Linked DNA regions of Homo sapiens. The protein of the gene in region 2 purifies or fractionates together with the protein of the main gene of each other region. This does not show direct contact. Each region holds a gene or a part of one and is shown on either strand. Other genes may lie near its edges.

What was found.
Region 1: the proteins of GNAZ (region 2) and DCAF10 purify together in Homo sapiens (affinity purification with mass spectrometry; 3 studies listed by BioGRID and IntAct, with this or other methods). This does not show direct contact.
Region 3: the proteins of GNAZ (region 2) and DAAM1 purify together in Homo sapiens (affinity purification with mass spectrometry; 3 studies listed by BioGRID and IntAct, with this or other methods). This does not show direct contact.

What each region holds. Positions count from the first base shown.
Region 1 is NC_000009.12:37,796,373-37,803,816, reverse strand, and holds the start of DCAF10 (DDB1- and CUL4-associated factor 10), read right to left. Parts: upstream 3,021-7,444; 5' UTR 2,951-3,020; coding exon 2,412-2,950; intron 1-2,411. UniProt on the Homo sapiens protein: May function as a substrate receptor for CUL4-DDB1 E3 ubiquitin-protein ligase complex.
Region 2 is NC_000022.11:23,065,667-23,073,518, forward strand, and holds the start of GNAZ (guanine nucleotide-binding protein G(z) subunit alpha), read left to right. Parts: upstream 1-4,852; 5' UTR 4,853-4,904; intron 4,905-7,852. UniProt on the Homo sapiens protein: Guanine nucleotide-binding proteins (G proteins) are involved as modulators or transducers in various transmembrane signaling systems.
Region 3 is NC_000014.9:59,191,662-59,198,686, forward strand, and holds part of DAAM1 (disheveled-associated activator of morphogenesis 1), read left to right. Parts: intron 1-7,025. UniProt on the Homo sapiens protein: Binds to disheveled (Dvl) and Rho, and mediates Wnt-induced Dvl-Rho complex formation. May play a role as a scaffolding protein to recruit Rho-GDP and Rho-GEF, thereby enhancing Rho-GTP formation. Can direct nucleation and elongation of new actin filaments.

The sequences.
Region 1 (7,444 bases), on a different chromosome or scaffold from region 2:
AGAAGTCCTTGAGGGTGACAGTGGTTATGCTACCTGGTAAGCTGATTTAACTCATATTTAACTGAAAGATATGAGAAATTACCTCATTTAACACGGATATGTCATCTATCTGTAAAATTACTTTAAGTCCTACACAAATGTAGGGCATACTAGATGAAGTAAGAAGACTGAAAAATTAAAACACTGAAGTATTTTCACTCATCACCCTGATAAACATGAAAAAGAATGGCAGTATGCAGTGTTGCCAAGGGTATGAGGAGACAGGCATGTGTCTAGAATGTAGGAATCAGAATATAGTAATGAGAATTAGTATGATCTTTGCAGAGGGCAATTTAACAATAGATATAAAAATCTTCATAACAATAACTCATTCTAGGGATTTATCCTAAAGATATAAATATAAAATATTTGTTCAAAGAGGTTTTATTTAAACTAATGAAAAATGTTAATGTTGTAGAAATATATTTATTAACATAAGCAGTTCACAATTTACTGTAAGAAAAAAAGCAAGCTACAAAACAGTGATTCCATGTTTATATTAAAATAAACATACACAAATTAAAAATTTCCTTAGATATCCATTTAATCTCTGGGATCATAAGCAATGTTTAGGTATTTTTTGCTCATTTATTGCCTAGGTTTTACACAATGAGCATATATGTTAATTGTGTAATTTAAAATTATGGAATTAAGTGCAAGAGTTCCTAACCACCTTTTACAAAACTGTTATGAGAAAATACATTCTAGATTCAAACAAAAACTAAGCAATATATCCCTTATTCTAACAGCTCTAAAATCTGTTCTTCTCATTATACTCCCACCTAAAATCCCACATCCAAAAAGTAGAAATAGCTGCTTCTGAATTCCTGAAAGTATCGGTAGGAGGTTGGGAGGAGAGGGGCCGGGATATGAAGAGAGAAACTGAATATTTGAGGACAGACTGTTCGTGTTTTGAGGGAAACTTTAGGAATAGGGCTTGGCTGAAGGAAGGAGGCTGCGAGGTTCCATGAATAAGTTTCAGCAAAATAGTTTCTCCTCTCACCAGTTTTCCACCTTATTCAGGTGTGCATCCACTGCTACATGCTCCAACCAATTGCTGTTGAGACCCCAGAGACCCCAGCACCACGTGTGATTAGGAAGCGCTTCCATCATTGAAATGGAATAGAGTCTACTTGCTCACAGTAACTCCTGTTTCTATTCCTTTGCTCCTTCCTTAGCAACTTCAGGTCTTTCTTCAGTAAAATTTTTTGCTTTGTAAACCTATTTTTTTTCACCTCCTGTAACATGATATGCTGCCCTTCTACGACCTTTGACATACCAATCATCTCCATCTGAAATACTTCTATCCCTTTCCCAACCCTATCTTGACTAATTTATTTCGTACTCATTTTTATTTTCATTTAGGTGCCACTTCCTCAGGGAATCCGTGAACACAGTGTCCATAACAGATTCCTTCAAGACTTTATCTCAATTAACAAATATATTTTATGCATTATTTAGTAAGGCTATCTACTATCTAGTTGAACCATTAAGTCCCAGGCTCAATGAAAACAGTGCCATTAGCTGGTTTTGCTCAGCATGGTTACTCCTGCATTTGGAACATAGCAAGTGCTCAACAAATATACGCCGAATGAGAGAATGAATGAATGAACAACTGAGTAAACAACTAGCAACCGAGAGGCTTGGTGGGGTAAGAATTACATTAACTATGTCACCTCATGGTGGAACTGTGCACATTTTTTCTTTTGATGGCGGACTTGTGTACTGACAAGACAAAGTTTTAAATAGATACGATTTTGGAAAGTTCCCTTTAAAGCAAAGCCATACAATAAATATTTAATCAGCCAAGAAAAAGGCTGTAGTCTAGCCTGGGGACTTCACAAATGACCCAAATCATGAGAGCCACGTCTCTACAGTGTCTTAGTACTGTATCTTCCTTGAGCAAAGGAACGCACTTGCCCCATCATGGCAAGTTCAGGTACAGAGTGCAAGGAATCTACAGCTTTCCTACCCCGACACAGGTTTAGGTAGGAAAACGCGAGCCTAGGATGATGGGGAGAAAGCGGGCATTTATTCAAAATGTATTTACTGAGCACCTACTGTGTACCAGAAAGCCCTAGTTGTGGGCTGGCTCTGACAGGTCCGCTGTGTAGCTTCGGGCATTTCTCCTTCACAGAGCCCAAGTCCTGAAGGCGAGCAAGTGGGGCCCCGCCTGCCTGCCTCAAAAAGCTGGGCTGGGGATTCCAAGGGCGAGAATGCGCTTCAGAAAGTGCCAGGAGGCACGAAGGCCAGCGGCCCCAAACGGCCTCGCTAACCTCGGCCCGGGCGCGGGGAGCGAGCCCAGGACGGCCGTCCGCTGGCAGCAGAGCCGGGCGGAGGCGGGCGCCCGCCCTCCGAGGGGCCGCGCTTACCCGTCGGGCGAGTACTCGAGGTTGAAGACGGCGCCGTGGGTGCGGGTGCTGAGGTACACCGAGTCCGCGGGGTGGATGGAACCGTAGAGGCTAGTCATGGTGCGAAAATTGTCCCGCGCCGGGTCCACGAACAGCCCGCGGCCCAGGCTGCGCTCTTTCAGCCACCCGAACAGCCTAGCGCCAGGGCCGCCCAGGCCCGCGCCGAGGCCGTGTCGGCCCCGGCTCTTGGCCCTGCAGTCTGGCCCGGGCCGCCGGCACGGAGGGGAGGGAGGTGACGGCTCTCCCGGGGCGGAGGCAGTTGAGGACTCCGGAGCTCCAGGCAGCCCTAGCTCTCCGGAGCGCGGGGCCGGGGACAGCGATGGGGCGCCGGGGCGGCGAGGGCTTCGGGCGGGTGGAGGGGGATGGGTCGCATCAGCCCCGGGATGTAGTGGCGAGGGCGGCCCGGTGGCTGCTGCCTGCCCCTCGTGGGGCGTCGGCTCCTCAGCCCCGGCTCCGGCCGATCCGTCCCCTCCAGGGCTATGGGGCCCAAAGGGAAACATGATCAACGCCCCCGCCCCCCGCTCCGGGCCACTGCCCCGCCGGCCGACACCTCAGTGCCCCTGTTCAGCTGCCACTTCCGGCGTGCAGCGGCCTAACCCCACCGGCTGGAAACCCGCGCCGCCCCTCGGCCACCGTCCGCCGGGGACCGGGAAAGCTGAGACACCGCCGGGTTTGGGGCGCCGCAGTCCCGGGAACGGAGGTAGGGAGCGAGTAGTTACCTGTGTGAGCGACTGAGCATCTGGGCACCTGATCTGGGTGGCAGAGTCGGTCTGTAGTTGTCAGTGACCGGTGGCCGCGTGCCTGGGGATGAGTGGCCTGACCAGTCAGTCCTGTGAGGCTGAGTATGTACTGGTGTCTCCACTTTACACTGGGATCAGCGAGGGATTAAGAATTAGTGCATTACGTGCAGGCCACACACAATAGGTGACATGCCACTCTTTTTTTTTTTTTTTTTTTCCGAGATGGAGTCTCGCGCTGTCGCCCAGGCTGGAGTGCAGTGGCGCGATCTCGGCTCACTGCAACCTCCGTCTCCCGGGTTCAAGCAATTCTCTGCCCCAGCCTCCCGAGCAGCTGGGATTACAGGCGCCCACCACCACGCCCGGCTAATTTTTTGTATTTTTTAGTAGAGATAGGGTTTCACCATCTTGGCCTGGCTGGTCTTGAACCTCGTGATCCACCCGCCTCGGCCTCCCGAAGTGCTGGGATTACAGGCATGAGCCACCGCGCCTGGCCAGCATGCCCAACTCTTAAAGGCACAACAAGTTCAGGGTGACCACAGGCAGCTTCTTCCAAAACCTATTTGTCACAAGGCAAAGGAGAGACTGAGAGGAAACAGGTTTGGATGTGCTACCCAAGGAATGGCTGAGATAGCCAGTCTGTGTATCTGGGCTTAAATGAAAGATGGCAAATAGGTGATAGTTACTTTTCTGGGTCAACTTGACTGGGCTAACAGATGCCCAGATAGCCTGGAAAACCATTATTTCTGTGTGTGCCTGTGAGGGTGTTTCCAGGACAGATTAGCATTTGAATCAATAGAAGATCTGCCCTCACCATTGTGGACAGGCATCATCCTATTCATTAAAGACTGAAAAGGAACAAAAAGGCAGAAGGGTGATTTAACTTTCTCTTAAGTTGGTACATCCATCTCCTGCCCTTAGACATCAAAACTCGGTTCTGCGGGCTTTGGACTTGGGGACTCATCGTCAGTTTTCAGGCCTTCAGTCTTGGACCGGGAGTTATACCATTAGCTCCTCTGATTCTCACACCTTCAGACTCAGACTGAATTACACCACCAGATTTCCTGGTTCTCCAGCTTGCAGACTGCAGATCATGGGACTCCTCTACAATGATATGAACCAATTCCCATATTAAATGTTCTCTTATATCTATATCTCCTATTGGTTCTACTTCTCTGGAGACCCCCTGGATGGGTCCAATCTACTGTAGCAGCCTACTTGCCTGGCATTCACACTCTTCATGTGTATGCCAGCACGTATATTCTACTGAACCCATCCTAGAAGTCCTAGGCTGTCGAATTTTGTAGCTGTTACTTAGCTTTCCTTGCCTACTAGCCGGGGTAGGACAACTATTTGAGTAACCAGGCTATAGATTAGCCACTGGTCCATGAGGCTGCCAGACCAAAAGTCTTTGCCCATACAGACTCATGCTCTTGGGAATTTGAATTGGGAAATCAGAAGTGAGGCAGTTGGCCATGATGGTTGGGATTGAAAAGTCATAAGGCAGAGTGAGGCCGCTGGAGTCCTGAGCAAACCAAAGGAGTAAGAGAAATCATGAGAAAGCAGCAGCCATGAGAGAACAGACTTGGGATAGACGGTGAGAAAGAAAGTTGATGGTAGGAGGAGATACAGATACATAAAAAGAGACAGACTCAGAACAGGTTAGACTTGTTCTTGGCAGAGTCCCCCTAGGGTCTTCCTGCAGAGTCCCTTGAGGTACCAGAATGATGGCTGCTCAATTTCAGTTTCAGTTTCCTGTGGGATGATCACTTGATTTCACAATACCTGAACCAGGACTTATGCACTGACAAAAAGAATCAAGGGCCAGACACAGTGGCTCACACCTGTAATCTCAGTGCTTTGGGAGGCCAAGGTAGGAGGATCTTTTTTTTTTTTTTCAGGGTCTCACTCTGTTGACCAGGATGGAGTACAGTAATACAGTCATGGCTCACTGCAGCCTCAACCTCCCAAGCTCAAGCAGCAGGAAGATCTTTTGAGGGTAAGGAGTTTGAGACCAGCCTGGGCAACATCATGAAACTCTGTCTCTCTATGAAAAATAACAAAATCATTCCGGTGTGGTGATGCATGCTTGTAGTCCTAGCTGCTCGGAAGGCTGAGCCAGGAGGATCCCTTGAGCCCAGGAGTTCAAGGTTACAGTGAGCTGTGATCACCCTGCACTTCAGCCTGTTGCACTTCAGCCTGAGCAACAGAGTGAGACCCCATCTCAAAAATTAAAAAAAAGAATTGGCACTTTGGGAGGCCGAGGCGGGTGGATCATGAGGTCAGGAGATCGAGACCATCCTGGCTAACAAGGTGAAACCCCGTCTCTACTAAAAATACAAAAAATTAGCCGGGCGCGGTGGCGGGCGCCTGTAGTCCCAGCTACTCTGGAGGCTGAGGCAGGAGAATGGCGTGAACCCGGGAAGCGGAGCTTGCAGTGAGCCGAGATTGCGCCACTGCAGTCCGCAGTCCGGCCTGGGCGACAGAGCGAGACTCCGTCTCAAAAAAAAAAAAAAAAAAAAAAAAAAAAAAAAAGAATTGGAATGACAACCAAGAAAACAAATGTGTCCTTTCAACCAGGGAGCCTTCTGTAGCCCAAAGAAAACAATGTACTCAAGGAGTAAAGTGATCCTATCATATAAGCTTATTGAAAAATAAAAAGCAAACATTCATATAATGTTTAGTGTATGCCTAATATTATGCTGAGTAAAGTGATCCTATCATATAAGCTTATTGAAAAATAAAAAGCAAATGTTCATATAATGTTTAGTATATGCCTAATATTATGCTGAGTTAAGTGATCCTATCATATAAGCTTATTGAAAAATAATAAGCAAACATTCATATAATGTTTAGTATGTGCCTAATATTATGCTAAGCTGGTTCATATATATTAACTCAAAACTCAAGGTATGTTGGTACGATTATTATCCCCATTTTAGAGATGAGAAAACACAGACACAAAAAAGAAAAGTCAGCCTGAGAGTGGTAAAGCCAGGATTCAAATCCAGGCAATCTAGCTCCAGGTTCCATGCTCGTAACCAGGTGCTACACACACATTTGTAGATTGGCTTGGATCTATAGCTATCGCTGTACATACAAGCTCCTTGCCAAGGATGGCAACTCAATAGTATTTTTTAAAAACCTCCAAATCTAAGCCAATCTACAAATATCAGGTCTGGCTCCCCTTTTCTTCTGAACACTTTTAAATTCTGAACCTTTGAATAACTGTAATCCCATGAAAAAGAACAACTTCCATTTGTTGAGTAAGTGCTTCACCAGGCTTATTGGTAGGAGCTTTGCAAGCATTGTCTCTAAATTTCCCTTTACTGGGGGCAGCCATAACTTGGCAACTACGAGGAAATGCAAGCTCAGTATTGCCACAGCTACAGATTTTTCAAAAAATGCCACATGTGGAAGTTCAAAATGAGGCCTGCTGTGGGCTCAATGATGCCACAAGAAATAGGACATAGGATGATATACCTAACACAGCAAGGAGATGCCTTGTGTGGCCATCAGTAGATCTTTGAGAAAAGACAGAGTCACTCTGTTTTACAGGCGTGAGCCACTGTGCCCAGCCTCATATTCTCTTTATTTAAGAAGATACCGGAGGTTATGGACCTCTAGCAAAATGGACAGGTAAAGCAAGAAAGTGGAATAAAAGTGATCTAAGTGGATCTAAGAAGGAGAGCAGTGCAGGAAGGTATAAAAGACAGGTGTACAAAAAGGGAGGGAAATATGACACATGCTACAACGTGTATGAACCTTGAGAATATTATGCCAAGTGAAATCAGCCAGTCACGAAAGGATATATATACTGTATGTTTCCACTTCTATGCAGTACCTAGAGTCGTCAAATTCACAGAGACAGAAAGAAGAATGGTGGATGCCAGGCACTAGGGTGAGGTGGGGATGGGGAGGTATTGTTTCATGGGTACAGAATTTCAGTTTTGCAAGATGAGAAGAGTTCTGGAGATGGATGGTGGTGATGGCTGCACAACAGTATGAATACACTTAACACTGTGTATGTACTGAATGTACATGTAAAAATTGTTAAGATGATAAATTTTGTTATGCATATTTTACCACAATTAAAGAAAAGACAGCTGTGCAGCAGGCCTGAAGAGCAGCCCCCCCAAAGTGGGAGGAGCACAGAGTGGGAAGTCTCCAGAGGAAAAATGGAAATGGAATGTTGCAATCTATTAAGGCGAGGCAAAAGACTCCAATGCCAGAATAGTGGAAGAAATTAACAAAGTA
Region 2 (7,852 bases):
GGCAGGGGGTTGTGGATGAAAACGTGTTCCACGTGCTGTGGATTTCTTCATCCATGTAAGGGTCTGTCCCTGTGTGCCCAGAACATCTGGGCCTAGGGTGGCAAGAGTCTCCTGAATTCCACCAACACTGAGTCCCAGCTACAAGCAAGGGCCTGCTGGAGGCTGAGGAGTAGGATACAAGACAAACGCTGCACAGCCCAAGCCCTGCAGATCCCATCAGTGCAGAAACCCCCCAACCCTACCACCCCTCCCGAGGCCTGATCCTCTCTCTCTCGCAGCTCCCTGCTTTGCCCATACCACACACCTGGCCTCCTGCTCCCGCTCTGCTTCCCCTCAGGTTCTGCCCACGGTCTCCCTACCCACTCCTGGCTATAGATTCAACTCAGTGGTGACCTGGACGGCCCTCTTCCAGCTCACAGCAGGGAGGCGACAATTTGACCTTCTGTTAATTTTGCTGGCAGATGGAAGGACAAAGTTCTGGGATGGGGACACTTGAGCAAAGACCTGGGGGTAAGGAAGTTGTTAATTTTCAAATCAGGGCTAGATTGTAGCCTCGTCTCACCTATCTGAGCTTCCCAGGAAATCCCTGGGACAGGTGTCATTGCTGAGTCAGGATGGGCACAAGTTAGGGGAGGAATATAGAAGGAGTTGAGGTCAGAAAAGTCAACATTCAAGGTGATCACCTCCATTACCCACCTCTCCTTGGTGAGGAAACTGAGGCCCAGAGAGGCAACTTGAATACCTAAGGTCACACAGCAGATGGTGGCAAAGCCAGGCGGGACCCTCAGCCCCTTGGGTTTTGTTTCTCAGGCATTTGTCTTGTACTTCTGCTCCTAGAAATGCTTAGCACAGGGACCGGGGTTCATTTTGAGACAGAGGGAGAAGATTAAAAATAAAACGCGTGCCGGGTGTGCCTTTCTGCTCGTTCACTTTGCTTCTTTTCAGCTAAAAGAAGAGTCTCGGGCCTGGCTATTTATAACTAACCCAGATCTGCGATGGCTTGCTCAAGTGGGGGTGGGGCACACAGACCCCAGGGAAACAATCGGGGAAATCCACCCAACTGGGCGGCAGCCTGAGCGTCCGCTGGGGGTGGGGGGTGGTTGCAGAAGAGGTAGGACAGGTGGGGCACAGAGAATCAGCCAGATGGGGTGGCACCAGAGCAGGCCAGGCTCTGGGCCATCCATGGTTTAGAGACAAGCAACATATGCCCACCCCACCCCCGGGAAGTGGGAAAACTAGTGGAATAGTCAGCTGGGGACAGGTCACTACAGAACAGGTTGACATGTGTGTAGACCAGGAATTCCAGGGTCCTAGGGGCTCTGGAGGTGCACAAAGGGAGGCCCCGGGGAAGCTGGTTCTCATGGATGTGGAGGAGAGCCCAGAACAGCAGGGCTCAAATGTATGTGTTTGTGGGGAGTCCCCGATCTGGCCTGGCTGATATGTAGGGGCTAGGATGGGTTCAGTGGTTGATGAGCCAAAGAGATCCAATGGGATTGAGGGGTCACGGATGTCCATGGTGTGGAGCCCCAGTGGTGGAGTCTGGGTCATTTTCTTTGTGGTGGGGCAGGGCGGGTGCTGACACCATGTTGAGGGGCCACTCCTCAGCCAGCTGTGCCTGCTGGGTTGGGGAGGTGCTGAGTGGGCTCAGTCACCACCATGGCCCCCTTCCTCTGGCTACAGCAAAGCCCCAGCTGTTGTCTCCCAGCCAATGAGGGCTCAGGACAGAGCACCAGCACCCAGGTTCTGGTCGCAGCCACACCCTTTCCTGTTAGGGGACTGCACATCCACACATGGCATCTGGGGCCCACCTTGCCGCAGGTGACCCACCTGTCCAGCTTTAGCCTTGCATGGCCCTGTGCCCTGAACTCCTGGCCCACTGGGCCTGCCTTTGCTCCAAGGGGTGCTTCTCTGTCCTCAGCTTTCTCGGCTTCCAGGTAGCTGGGAGCATGGTTAACAGCTTCTTCCTTTACCACATGCTCTCTTCCCGTGCCTCTGGTACCCTCCATTCTCTGGTTCCTGACCACCTCCCCAACTGCTCCTCCATCTTTTTGGTAAGCACCATCTCTTCCTCCAGTGGTCCCCACCCTCTCCCCTTCTCTCATCTCCCTGGGTCCTGATAATGCCCCGCCACTGTCTCCTAACATGCTCTTGGTCTCCCTGCCATCTCACAGCCACAGCAGACCGTACACTGAACTCAGCCTCACAGACTGACTTCTGTGCTCACTCCCACTTCCTCTGGACTGACTAACTGATGTTTTTGTTATTTTATTATGTCCAGTAGGACAACTCACATTGTCTGTGGGACCACGCCTACTGTAAACAGGCAATTAAAAACTTCTCCTCCTCCTTCTCAAATTTAAAAGACTAATGTTAAAACTCTCGAGCAGTTCTTAGGCCAACGTCCCTGATCCTACTGCCCCAAGCTGGCATCTGTGCATGGGCAACGACCCTGGCCCCAGCCACACTGGTCTTCTCTGGGTTCTTCCTGGCCTCGTGCTCCTTCATGTCCTGCACCGTCCCCGCCTTGGAACTCACTTCCCTCCCACCCTATGTCACTGGCCACCTCCACGCCTGCTATGGCCTCATTCCAAGCATCTCTTCCTTTGGGAAGCTGGCCCAATGCCCAATGCTCCCCCACTCCACATGCCCCCAGAGCCCCAGTGGGTCTCCTCAGATAGCCTCACATGACTGTAAGGCCCAATCGTTGTTTGCTTTCTGCCCCTGCCCTACAGGCAGAGGGTCTGCCAGAAAAGGGCCGGTCTGAATCCTAGAACTGTGCCTACAACTATACCCTGGTGGAGGAGGCTATCTGTAAGTGACTGCTGCATGAATACAATATTGGTTTGATGCCAGGTGAGATGTCCCTCTCTTACTTTGAGGTCAAGTCAGGGAGGTGTCAGCCAGCCCCAGTGGACCCCTCCGCAGGCTAGCCTCTGCTCTGGACCACTGGAAAGGGCCATCTCACTGTTGCATGTGGGCTTACCTCTGCAAACAATTCAACTCTGACCCCCAGACTCTGCAGTGGAAACAGCCTCTGGCTATCCCAAGACATGCTAATATGCATTTCCTATAAACATTAACCCTCAGAGCCACCCTCTGACCACAGTCTGTTACATTCCCTTTTGACAGAAGAGGAAACAGAGGCTCAGCCAGGTAGCACAGCTGCCGGTCTCTGTGTGGTCCTCCTGGCAAGAGGTCCAGCCTGACACAGCCTGGTGGTGTGGAAGGCAAGCACAAAGGGTAGCTAGCCCCTCAGCCATTGGCTGAATTCCCTTGGTCCTCACTGGACACCTCCAGTGAGCACTAAGTTCGCCTCCATGATGCCCATAACAAATATACGTCCTGTTCCTGACAGTTGAGGCAGCACCCTCACAGGTGGCCCATGACCCTGCAGGTACGTAACGCAATGGTCTCCATCTCACAGAAGAGGAAACATTCCTAGGGAGGTTATGGGATGATGCTGAGATGCCACAGTGTCCAGCTGGCAAAGCCAGGCACATGCCCCTGCCCCTCCACCACAGAGCTATGATGGAGAGACCGCTCCATGGACCTCTGCCATGGTCAGGTCCAGGGCTGCTGCTCAAAGAATGGCATGATCCACACCTTACAAAGGTGTGAGGTGATAAGGAACGCGTTAGCTGGGAAGGCATTTGCACTTTGTCAGGGATGCTCTAGGATACACAAAGCTTCAGATTTACAAAGATGGAGAAGAGAGACAGGAGCATTCATGTCTTGGCCCTCTGGCTTGAGAGTCTTTTAAGCATGGAACTGAGGGACTCCTGGCCCTGAGGTCCACAGATAGGCTTTGAAATTGAAAACAGAATTTTGCAGCCTGGGTTCAGCTGCGTTTTGCTGAGGGTCTGATGCTTTCCACCAGCTTCCCAAAAGCGCCAATCAGTGGCCTTAACTGAACTGGCTCTCTCACGCTTGTCTGGGCTGGGGGCCAGCTCCTCGGTCCTTCTCCCTTCCTTCCCTCCCAAGGCCACCCTTCCGTGTGCCAGGATTGCCAGGGACGCCAAAGAGCCCCTAGACACTGGGCGGTGGCGGCGGGGGGCGGCGGCAGAGATGACTAATGCTCCCTCCCATCGCTGCACAAACCTCACCGGTGTAAATCGTTAGGGTTTGCATAGGCCTTTCACACGTTCTGAAGGATTGGTGAGACAATCCAGGAAAGCAGGTGCCACTAGCCCCACTTTGCAAACAGAAAGGCTGAGAGAGGTCAGTCGGTTGCCCAAGGACGTAGAGCTCACAAGAGGCCGAACTGGGTTTGAACCCGAGTGGAGAGAAGGCGAGCCGGGACTGGCTGCAGTAAAGAGGGCCAGGACCATGGCTGGGCTCAGGCTTGGTTTCCCGGGCTGCCAGAGGTGGCCCCTGGGGCTCGGCTACCAGGCCTCAGCGCAGCGGAGTCGGTGGAACGCCGGCGCGGGGAGCTCTTGCGGGACTGCGGCGCGCGCGGAGCTGCGACCCCGCCCCTGTCCGTCCCCATTGGGCTACTGGCCCGTCCGTCAGCTGCCTGTGCCCAATGGACAGAGGGCCGGCGCTCGTGGCGGGGCGGAGGTGCCCGGCGCGTGGTGCCCGGCGGGCGCGCGGCACCCCCCCGCCCGCGGTTGGCCTGGCAACGGGCTGCGCTCGCGGCTCCGCCCCCTGCCGGCGGCGGCGCGGCGCGGGGCGGGCGGACCCGCGGACTGGCGGCGGGCGGCGGGCGGCGGGCGGCGCGGGAGGGCGGGCGGAGGGAACCAGGCCGGCCGGAGCGTGTGCGCCGCCCGCGGTCCGGTCACGTCCCCGCGTGGGCGCCGCTGCCCGCGTCGTACGGAACGAGGGCGCCGCGGCCCCGTGCTCGCCGCCCCGCCCCGCCCCGCCCTGCCCGGAGCAGCTCGGCAGATGCTCTGTGCTGCGGCCCGGAGGTGAGTGAGCCGACCCGCGGCCGGCCGCGCGCCGCTGAGCCTCAGGGGTCGGGGGCACGGCCGGGGCATCCACCTTGCCCCCACTTGGGACTCTTCCCAGGCCTTTGTGCCCCGGATCCGCCAGGACGCAGCGTCAGGGATGCCCCTCAGGGGTGGGGGACACCAAGGGCGGGGACGCCTGCGAGGTGGGCAGGGGGCGGCCTCTGGTCGGGCAGGTGCTGGGGGAGGGATGCGCCGCCAAGCCGATGACCCCGCGGGAGGGGGCGGTTGAGGACCCGGGAGGGTGGACAGAGGGCGCCGGGGATGCCGCGCGGGGCCGCCGGGCGCCCCCAAGCAGCGGCTGATGCGGAGCCCGGGCGGGCCAGGCGAGCTGCGGGAGCGGCGCTGAGGCGGGTCTCCCTAGGGGGAGGATCAGGGAGGGGCGGCCGGAGCCGATGCAGGGCCTTGCCTGAAACCGAGGAGAGGGCCCCAGAGGCCTGGGCCCGAGGACCTGGGCCCGCAGACGGACAGCTAGCAGTTCTCGGTCACTGCTCTTGCAGCGAGCAGGTTCCTCACAGGCATTTAGAGGAAGAGATGAGTATCGACCTGCTGCGATTGTAATACGTTCCCGGCTCAATATTTTTTCCCTTAAAAGGCGGTGGGGGTGTTTGGGGGAGGGGAGTGAGGGCCTCAGGGCTGGCGCTCCGTATCCTGCGGGCGATCCGAGGGGGCTCTGCCTTTAGGGCGGTGCTGAGCCTTCCTGGGTGATGATGGCAGGATTCGGCCTAGGCCGAGAATGGGGGCTCCTGTTAACTGAGACAAGAGGATGATGCCAAGCGAGACCAGCGTTCCGCGTAGTCCGTGTTGGGGTGGAGGGACCCGCCTGGTAGAGAGGTCTGTCTTGCTTGGGGAGACAGCTGAGCCCCTGACCGGCTCCTTTCTGCCCAAGTGATTTCCCTGCCCTGGGGATTGAGCTCTCTGGAGAAGGCTCCTTGGCCAAATTCAATTAAGCAAATATTTATTGAGTGGTCACTCCCCCAGAGCTTGACGCTGGGGTGCACCGGGTGGGAGTGGACTGGGCCTGCCCTCCCAGGACTGATTGACCACCGCATAGGGGAAAACGTCTCTACTCGACCAACCCCGCTTGAGTGCAGGTGCAGGGGCCTCGGGAGGGACCTCAGAGTGGTGTCCTGGGCTGGGGGGTCAGGTGAGCTCGTGGGCAACATGACATTTGAACTGGAGCTTGAAGGACATGGGCACAGCTAAGCTGGGCATTGTGGGCAGAGAGGAGAGAATAGACCGAGGCACTTGGGCAGTTAGGTCTGATGGGAGCACTTAGCATGCCTGGGGAGTAGGAGGAGGTATGGCGGGAAAGGCCGGTGGGGGCTGCACGGGGCTGAGGGAGCTGGGAAGTGGAATGACCCCACTGCTGGTTAACTGTGGCTATGGTGGAGACCACGGCTTCCTCATCTGTAAAAGCGAAGCAGTTCCATGACCCCATGAGCTGGGGTGGGCCTGGAGAAGAGCTAGCTTTAAAGACTGGGGAAGGCTCCTTGCAGTCTGAGACTGTGCTTCCAGGCACTTCTCCCTCGGGCACAGCCAGGGCACTGGGTAACCACCCAGGCAACCCCCTTGTTAGGATTGAGTTGCCTGTTTCGGGGATGATGCTTAGCTAGTGACTCTGTGCCTCTGGGATGTGGATGTTTGAGAGCAGTAATCGTGGCAGCCTGGGAGCATCCATCTACGGGGTGCAGTGGGGGTGTGGATGGCCTGGCGGTGCTTGGATAAAATATGCGCCTTGAGCAAGCCTCATTCTCTAGGAATGAGGAGATGCTGGCATCTGGTTTAAAAGTCTTCCTGTGTGTTCCTCTAACTGACGTTGATTTTCTGAGACAGGAGGTGAATAAGACATAATTTCTCCCCCTCGGAAATTGGTGTCACTTTCCCCCCTAAGTCAGCTCCCTCATTTCTGGGGATGTTTTTGCTCTCCCTCTGAAGGGGCTGTTTGTTACTCATCTTTGTAGTGTGCCTACCCTCCCCACCCAACACACACTTGGCTTTGGCCAAGGCCCAGGTTGATGCAGCGAGAACAGGGCCTGCCCTCGTGGGGTGTGCAGTCTGTGCTGAGCAGGGTGAGCTGCTGTGCTCTGTGCCTGTCGCCTGGACTGTTGCAGGGACCTGGCATGTGACTGTGGGTTTGGGACACAGGGAATGGATTCTTCCCTCTGTCCCCAGCCTCTCAGTCCTTTTGTTTTCTAGAATCTCAGGAGGAACCTCAGAGACCTGGAGGCCCCACCAGAGTGGCCAGAACCTGGTGCAGGAGTATGGGTGGGGTCTCAGTCTGGCCCTCAGGAGCTTCTAGAACAATTCCAGGAATTTGCAGGTAACTGGATTGACTTCACAAGGGCTGCCCAGGGCCCCCGCAGAGAGGCCAGTGGGACAGGAATGCTGAATATAGCAATTCAGGAATGCTGAATTTAGTCATCTTGTGTGTGAACACATGTGTGCGGCTTCCTCCCCTGGAGGCAAGGAAGGCAGCCCTGTGCTGTCTGTCCCACGCTAGCCTCAGAATACTTAAGACGGTGTGTGGTGGCAAAGGCACTCTCACTGCTGCTGACCATGGCAGGTGCACGGGCACACTGGAGGAGGCAGGTCAGCATGCTGCTCTCCCGAACCCTCCAGCAAGGAAACCTGGGGTAGCCAAGCCTCTGAGCACCTGTGAGCACTGTGCTTGGCTGGAAGGAGCACAAAGCGAAATGAACAGAGGCGTCAGTGCAGATGCCAAGGGTCAGCCCCAGGCAGAATCCCAGAGCAGAGGCTATGCTGCGGCCTGGGCAGAATGAAGAGGGACGTGGGAGCACCCAGACTGTTGTGGCTCCGGGGTGGTGAGGTGAGCATTCCAGTCTAGGTGGCAGAAGACCTGGAGTCAGGTCCTGGTCCCACCATCCTAGGTCCAGCCCCTTTTTCTC
Region 3 (7,025 bases), on a different chromosome or scaffold from region 2:
GTTTCTTTGTAGTTACAATTTCTTATTACCCCTGAACCAGGCATTTCTAGATTTCTCTCAGTTGCACTATCCTTGGCCCAGATAATCTTCCCAGGAGGTGTGTGACACGTGAATAGGGAGAGACACCAAGAGAAAGATACCCAGAAGCCTTTGCCAGGCCACCAGTGTCTCCCAGAAGAGCTGGGAGACAATAGTCCTCTCACCTGAGGCAGAGCCGTTCCGTAAACAGGATCAGTTGTTTCAGGCTGGTTGATGTGAAAGAAATGTGAAAGAACATTTGCCCAATATTTGTAACATGTTACCATCCAGTAGTCTGATTCTGTGGGTTTTCAGGAGCATAAATTAGTAAATTAGTGAGGAGGTGTGATAATGAAGAGGGTGTGGTGGGTCACATCCTTGGGTGGTGCTTACAGGAGCTCCATGAATAGGTGCTAAGGAATTTGAATCCTGGCTTTCTTGTTTTGTGGACATGTTCTGCTTGTTAAGGGGTGTGTGTGTGTGTGTGTGTGTGTGTGTGTGTGTGTGTGTGTGTGGTTTTGAGCTACTTTGTTTAAAAGGCTGCTTTTAGTGTTGGCACTATGGTCCTTAAAACAAATAAGGTGTTTACAAGCAAAAGTTCTGATTGAAAGTGTTTCATTTTGTAAATATTTGGGAGATGGCATAAAGAGAAACTTGAGGTCTTGTGTGAAAACACTTTAAAGTTGCAGCTGTTGGACCAGAGGAAACATGCTTTTCCAACAAAGCTTGGTATCCTTGAGTGCCCTAGGTGTTTGGTTCAGGAAATAATCACAGAGCTTGTAACTGCTGTGGGGCCCTCCCTGGCTTCAAGCCGTGCTCTGGTATTTCCAGTGTTAAGTCTATCCTTATATTGCCGGAAACAAAGCAAGGTGTCCAACTTGGGTTAGCAAACTTGTTTTCTCTCTAGAGGGGACACCAGTCAAAATAGAAGTTCTATATTCTGTTGTGATTTTTTCCTCTTTGGATGAGGAATATGGTGACTTATTTTGGTATTACAATTTCTAACTTGGTAATAGAGGTAATATTCTAAGTGAATACCAATCTTAAGTACGCACAGCATCTGTTGTAGTGGTTTCAAGACCTCAAAGTTTAGGCCGGGCGCGGTGGCTCAAGCCTGTAATCCCAGCACTTTGGGAGGCCAAGTCGGGAGGATCATGAGGTCAGGACATCGAGACCATCCTGGCTAACACGGGGAAACCCCGTCTCTACTAAAAATACAAAAAATTAGCCGGGTGTGGTGGCGGGTGCCTGTAGTCCCAGTTACTCAGGAGGCTGAGGCAGGAGAATGTCCTGAACCAGGGAGGCGGAGCTTGCAGTGAACGGAGATTGCGCCACTGAACTCCAGCCTGGACTACAGAGCGAGACTCCGTCTCAAAACAACAACAACAACAACAACAACAAAACCCTCAAAGTTTAGAGGAAATTGATTGCACAGGTACTATTTAAGAAACTGGTACTGAGAGCATTTTCTCTATTTCTGTATGTGGCTTGGAGGTAATGTCTGGTTGACAGATCAGGCTAGGGTGGATGATACCCCTCTTGAAGATGCATTCACTTAGCAAGTGTACTGTCTTTTATGTAGATTATATTATTTAGAGTGGCTGAGGCTGCTGATAGAGACCAGCGTTGAAGTGTGGATCTGAAGTTCACCCCCTTTCTCTGAGCTGTCACCTTGTTTGTAGCCCCACTGAAACAGGGACAGACGAACATGAGATTCAAGTTGATTTTAGTGACCTATATTTCATCCAGCAGATTTTTTTTTTCAGAAATAAAAGGTTACCTTTTAATTTTTTAGTATCCTTTCCACTGTTCTAGGAGCAGGGGGAGAACAGAGCATTTCAGGGAGAGTTTGCATTCATAGTCCACAAGTTTGCATACATAGAACATGTGTCTAAAAATGAACTGAATGTTAAGTCCTAGAAGCACAGCAACAAGTGTGCAGAGCCTTCCCCATCACTCCCAATTAATCTGGGGTTACCAAATACACCCTCAGCTTTGGTGAGCTTGTTTTCCTCATTGATGTTTAAGCGTTCCTGGTTTTTACTCTGTCTGTGACTTTCTGCAGTAATGGCTGTCCACGTCTGGAATGTGCTTCCCTCTGAGTGTCTGGATTATCTTGTGCTTTCATATCTAGCTCAGGTGCCACAGCTTCCACGAAGCCTTCCCTGCCCTTCCTCCTTAAAGCACTTAGCTTGACCACACAACACTTACAGCTAATTTGATACCGATATTGTATGTGAGGTGCCTACCTCATGCCAAGCCCTTTCTAATACTTTCCATGGGCTACGTCATTGACTGCACATAATTATACAAGATAGATACTTTTATTGCCATGTTCTAGATGAGGAAACTGAGGCACAGAGAAGTTAAAGAACTTGCCTAGCTTAGGCCACACAGCCTGTAAGTGGCAGACCAGGTTAGGGACTCAAGCAGTCTAGTTCTTTATACATCCTGATGTTGCCTGGTTTCTGACTTTCCGGCACGTTATTCTTTTCTCTGCAACTCGAGTTGGGGTAATCACAGCTTCCTTTGAGTCTCTTAATTCTCAGACAGTGCTGGGTCAGTAAGTCCTGGATTAATTGAGAGTAAAATGACTTCTTCATGTCACAGGTTCTTACAGCCTGATTTTCTGGAACAGAAAATGTTGTGTGAGATTAAAAATGTTGTTTTTGAGTATTTAAATGATAAAACTTTGGAGCTCTCCTTTGCTGTATGAACGATAGACAAATTATTTGAAAAAGGAAATGCTCTTATATTACAACTCTAAATCTGTTTGGAGCCTGTCCAGCATTAGACCTTATTTGTTAAGTGAGGTAACTTTTCACTGGGTTGAATCCCTCATCTGATAAAAGATCTTCTCACCCTGAACAGGGCCACAGAAGCCTGTGTTGAGAGTTAAGAGGGCCCATAATTTCTCAGCCTCCCTCTTCCCTGTAGTCTTTTAACATACATTGTGAAAGCTCTTTTGAAAAGAAAATAATGAACACTTGAGCAGTAGTCAAACATGTAATCTAATATTGGATAGCCTTAGATATTAAAATAAACTTTTTCCCCCCACCTCAGAAGAGATACTTTTATTTATTTTTACAGTGGAGCAAATTTGGTGCCAAATAAACAATTTCTATTCTTTTAAACCATAGCCACAGTTGTGAATTAAATGGGGAAAACCAGGGAAGCAAGTTCAATTTCCAATGCAGTTGGTGCGATTTCGTGACTTACAATAGATCTTTTCCTTTTGGCTTAAAACTAGATATTGTGCCACTTAGACAATATTTAATGAAGACAATTGACTAAAACACAAGGAAATAATAGGAAAGCTATGCCTTAACGGCATATTGCCAGGAAGGGAAACATGAAAACAAAAGGCTTGTTAGCCATTAGGCTACACAATCATAAAATTTTTTGAACAGACATTGATTTCAGAAGGTTTTTCTTTTTTCTTAATCATTCATCTTGTTATACTTTTTTTTTTTTTTTTTTTTTTGAGACAATCTTGCTCTGTCGCCCAGGCTGGAGTGCAGTGGTGCGATCTCAGCTCACTGCAAGCTCCGCCTCCCAGGTTCACGCCATTCTCCTGCCTCAGCCTCCTGAGTAGCTGGGACTACAGGTGTCCACCACCACGCCCAGCTAATTTTTTGTATTTTTAGTAGAGATGGGGTTTCACCGTGTTAGCCAGGATGGTCTCAATCTCCTGATCTCGTGATCCGCCTGCCTCGGCCTCCCAAAGAGCTGGGATTACAGGCGTGAGCCACCGCGCCTGGCCTCATCTTGTTATACTTTTTAAGTATGTCATTCACCTTTAGTAATAACCTGGGTTTATTCTGTTCTATAAATTACACCAGGATTGGGGTTTTAAGGCTACCTGTATTTCTGCTGGCACACAATTAAGGTCACCTATTAAACTGGTCTTTGTCATTTTTATGTCTAAAAAAAATACCTGCAGTGTGATTGGAAAATGTTGCCTATCTGATAGACTTCCTGAATTTAGGCTTACAAGAGTAGATAGCCCAGATCCTAGCTTTGGGCATTGTTGGGGTAATACAGATGCCCATCTTTTATTTTCTGAGATAGGTTCTTATATTCTGGCTTGTTGGCTAGCTCAGTTTGTTAGTGACATACAAACCAGGTCAAGGGCATGGGTTAGCTTTGCCTTGTTTTGGAGCCACAAACTGTACCTGTAATTCTAGTCAGATTTTTTCTGTATCTTTTTTTTTTTTAAATTAATCATGCTTTTGGGGACTAGACTGTACATTGTGGACATATCAGTGCACAGCTATCACTACTAAGGGCAAAAAAAGGTGCCATATTTTAAAGCGAACTGGTAGGAAAACCCTGTAAGTGAGAGGCAAGACTGCCAGCAGCTTGCTAAGGAACCGTATGCTTCTGACAGTTGTCCTCCTGTGAAGATTAGGTCAGGACTAGGGGCAGCTTCTTGAAAGTTTGCCAAAGCCAATAGCCTTGATCTTTTTCCTTTCTTGGCAGAATGACAGATGCCATCAATGTGTGTTTGGGTGCTACTTCTGGACTTACTCTTAGATAAAGTTCTGGATATTTGTGCCCAAGAAGAAGAGTAAAGGATGGTGGTCAACATTATTCACCAGATGAGATAGATTGTTCATATGTGCCTAAGCTTAAATTTGTATTAGTTTCATAGAGATTTGGTAAAACCAAGCAGGGAAATGTTTAGACACAAGTTAGAACCCGCAGTTCTGTAACAAGAGGTTTAGACCAGGGACCCTTCTAAATCCCCAGAATGTACTACAAAATTAATTGTAAGAAATGGGCCGGGTGCGGTGGCTCACGCCTGTAATCCCAGCACTTTGGGAGGACGAGGCGGGCATATCACAAGGTCAGGAAGTCGAGACCATTCTGGCTAACACGGTGAAACCCCATCTCTACTAAAATTACAAAAAATTAGCCGGGCGTGGTGGCGGGCGCCTGTAGTCCCAGCTACTCCGGAGGCTGAGGCAGGAGAATGGCGTGAACCCGGGAGGCGGAGCTTGCAGTGAGCTGAGATCCTGCCACTGCACTCCAGCCTGGGTGACAGAGCGAGATTCTGTCTCAAAAAACAAAACAAAACAAAACAAAAAAACAAAACCCACAAAAAAACTAATTGTAAGAAATTAAAGGAAATGAAACAGCTTAAACTGAAGAAACTTGCTGCATTCTCTATTCTTGAAAGTTGGTGAAATTGTGAATATGGAAAATGTCATACATTTCTGTTCAAGGCAACCCATTTGGAATTCTTTTTTCTTTTTTGAGACGGAGTCTCGCTCTGTCGCCCAGGCTGGAGTGCAGTGGCGCGATCTCGGCTCACTGCAAGCTCCGCCTTCCAGGTTCCCGCCATTCTCCTGCCTCGGCCTCCCGGGTAGCTGGGACTACAGGCGCCTGCCACCACGCCTGGCTAGTTTTTTGTATTTTTAGTAGAGACGGGGTTTCACCGTGTTAGCCTGGATGGTCTCGATCTCCTGACCTCGTGATCCGCCCGACTCAGCCTCCCAAAGTGCTGGGATTACAGGCGTGAGCCACCGCGGGAATTATTTTTTCAAATGCAACTACAGTTAACTCATTATTAGTGGCTGCTATTTGATTTAGGCTGATGGTGGAAAAGAAACAACAATACCATTTCTGTTTGGTTTCCCCATCCTGTTTGTGTGGCAGTCATTTCTGCGTTAGAGGTACTTTGTTCAGCACTGTTGGTAATGTGAACTAAAAGTTGGAGGACATGCAATAAATAAATGCTGGAATTGAAGCCAATGGCTGAGACTGACCGCACCATGTTCTCAGAAGGTTAAATGAACAGGCCTGCTATTATATTTTCGTCTTTTAAAAATCAAGAATAGAGATTAAACTGGAAATACTCTGACCCATTTAGGGCTTGAGATTCTGTGAGTAGGTAACACTTCCAACTATGGAAGTTCTAGGAACTGTGGCAGGAAACTGCCTTGCCTATGATATTTTCTGCTAAGGGCTGGTTAAAATGTTTTTAAAAATGTATATAGTTTTATATTTAACCCAATTTCTTTTCAGGCTGTGTCTGAAGTTACGTTTCTTCCATACCTTACCTTTTCTTTCTATACTCCCTGCATTGCAGTTTGACAGTTCTGCTCCTTTGGCTTCTCTGTGGGCAGGGTGAGATGGCTGTCTCCAGTCTGCCAAGTTCCATATCTTGGGAGCCCCATCACTGACCTTACAGAAAAGCATGTCTTCCCCCCTTAACCCTCTAGCTTAGAATGAGAGCTGTGAGGCAGCTGGGAGAGGAAGGCTTACATTGTAATTCTGTCAAGCTCAGATTGTTTTTCTGACGAACAAGTTGAGGGAAGTAGGTAGAGGGGAGGACAGAGAGAGTTGCTGGGTTTCACTTATCTTATCATTTGTTTCCCTCTGGATGGCCTTTGTTTATGCTGTCTCTTCAGGCCAGGAATTCCTCCAACAGAAATCATGCGTACACTCGGGGACATTCACATTGGGGCTTCCTTCTTGTGTTTCCATTTGCTGATTTGCCTTTCTTTTCTTTTCTTTTCTTTCTTTTTTTTTTTTTTTTGAGACGTAGTCTTGCACTGTTGCCCAGGCTGGAGTACAGTGGTGCAATCTTGGCTCACTGCAACCTCCGCCTCCTGTGTTCAAACAATTCTCCTGCCTCAGCCTCCCAAGTAGCTGGGATTACAGGTACCCGCCACCATGCCCAGCTAATTTTTCTATTTTTAGTAGAGACAGGGTTTCAACATATTGGTCAGGCTGGTCTCAAACTCCTGACCTTGTGATCCGCCTGAACTCCTGACCTCATGATCCGCCTGCCTCGGCTTCCCAAAGTGCTAGGATTACAGGCATGAGCCACCGTGCCTGGCCCCATTTGCTGATTTGCCTTTCTTCTCTACAGCCTGATCCGGAAGGAGGGGTGGAAATACTTAACCTGCTTTTAATGCTTCTGTTAGGGGATAAAGAGATTTTACAACAGTGATGTGGGGCAAACATGTGGGTGACTTTTCTAATGAGGAAGGAGGATA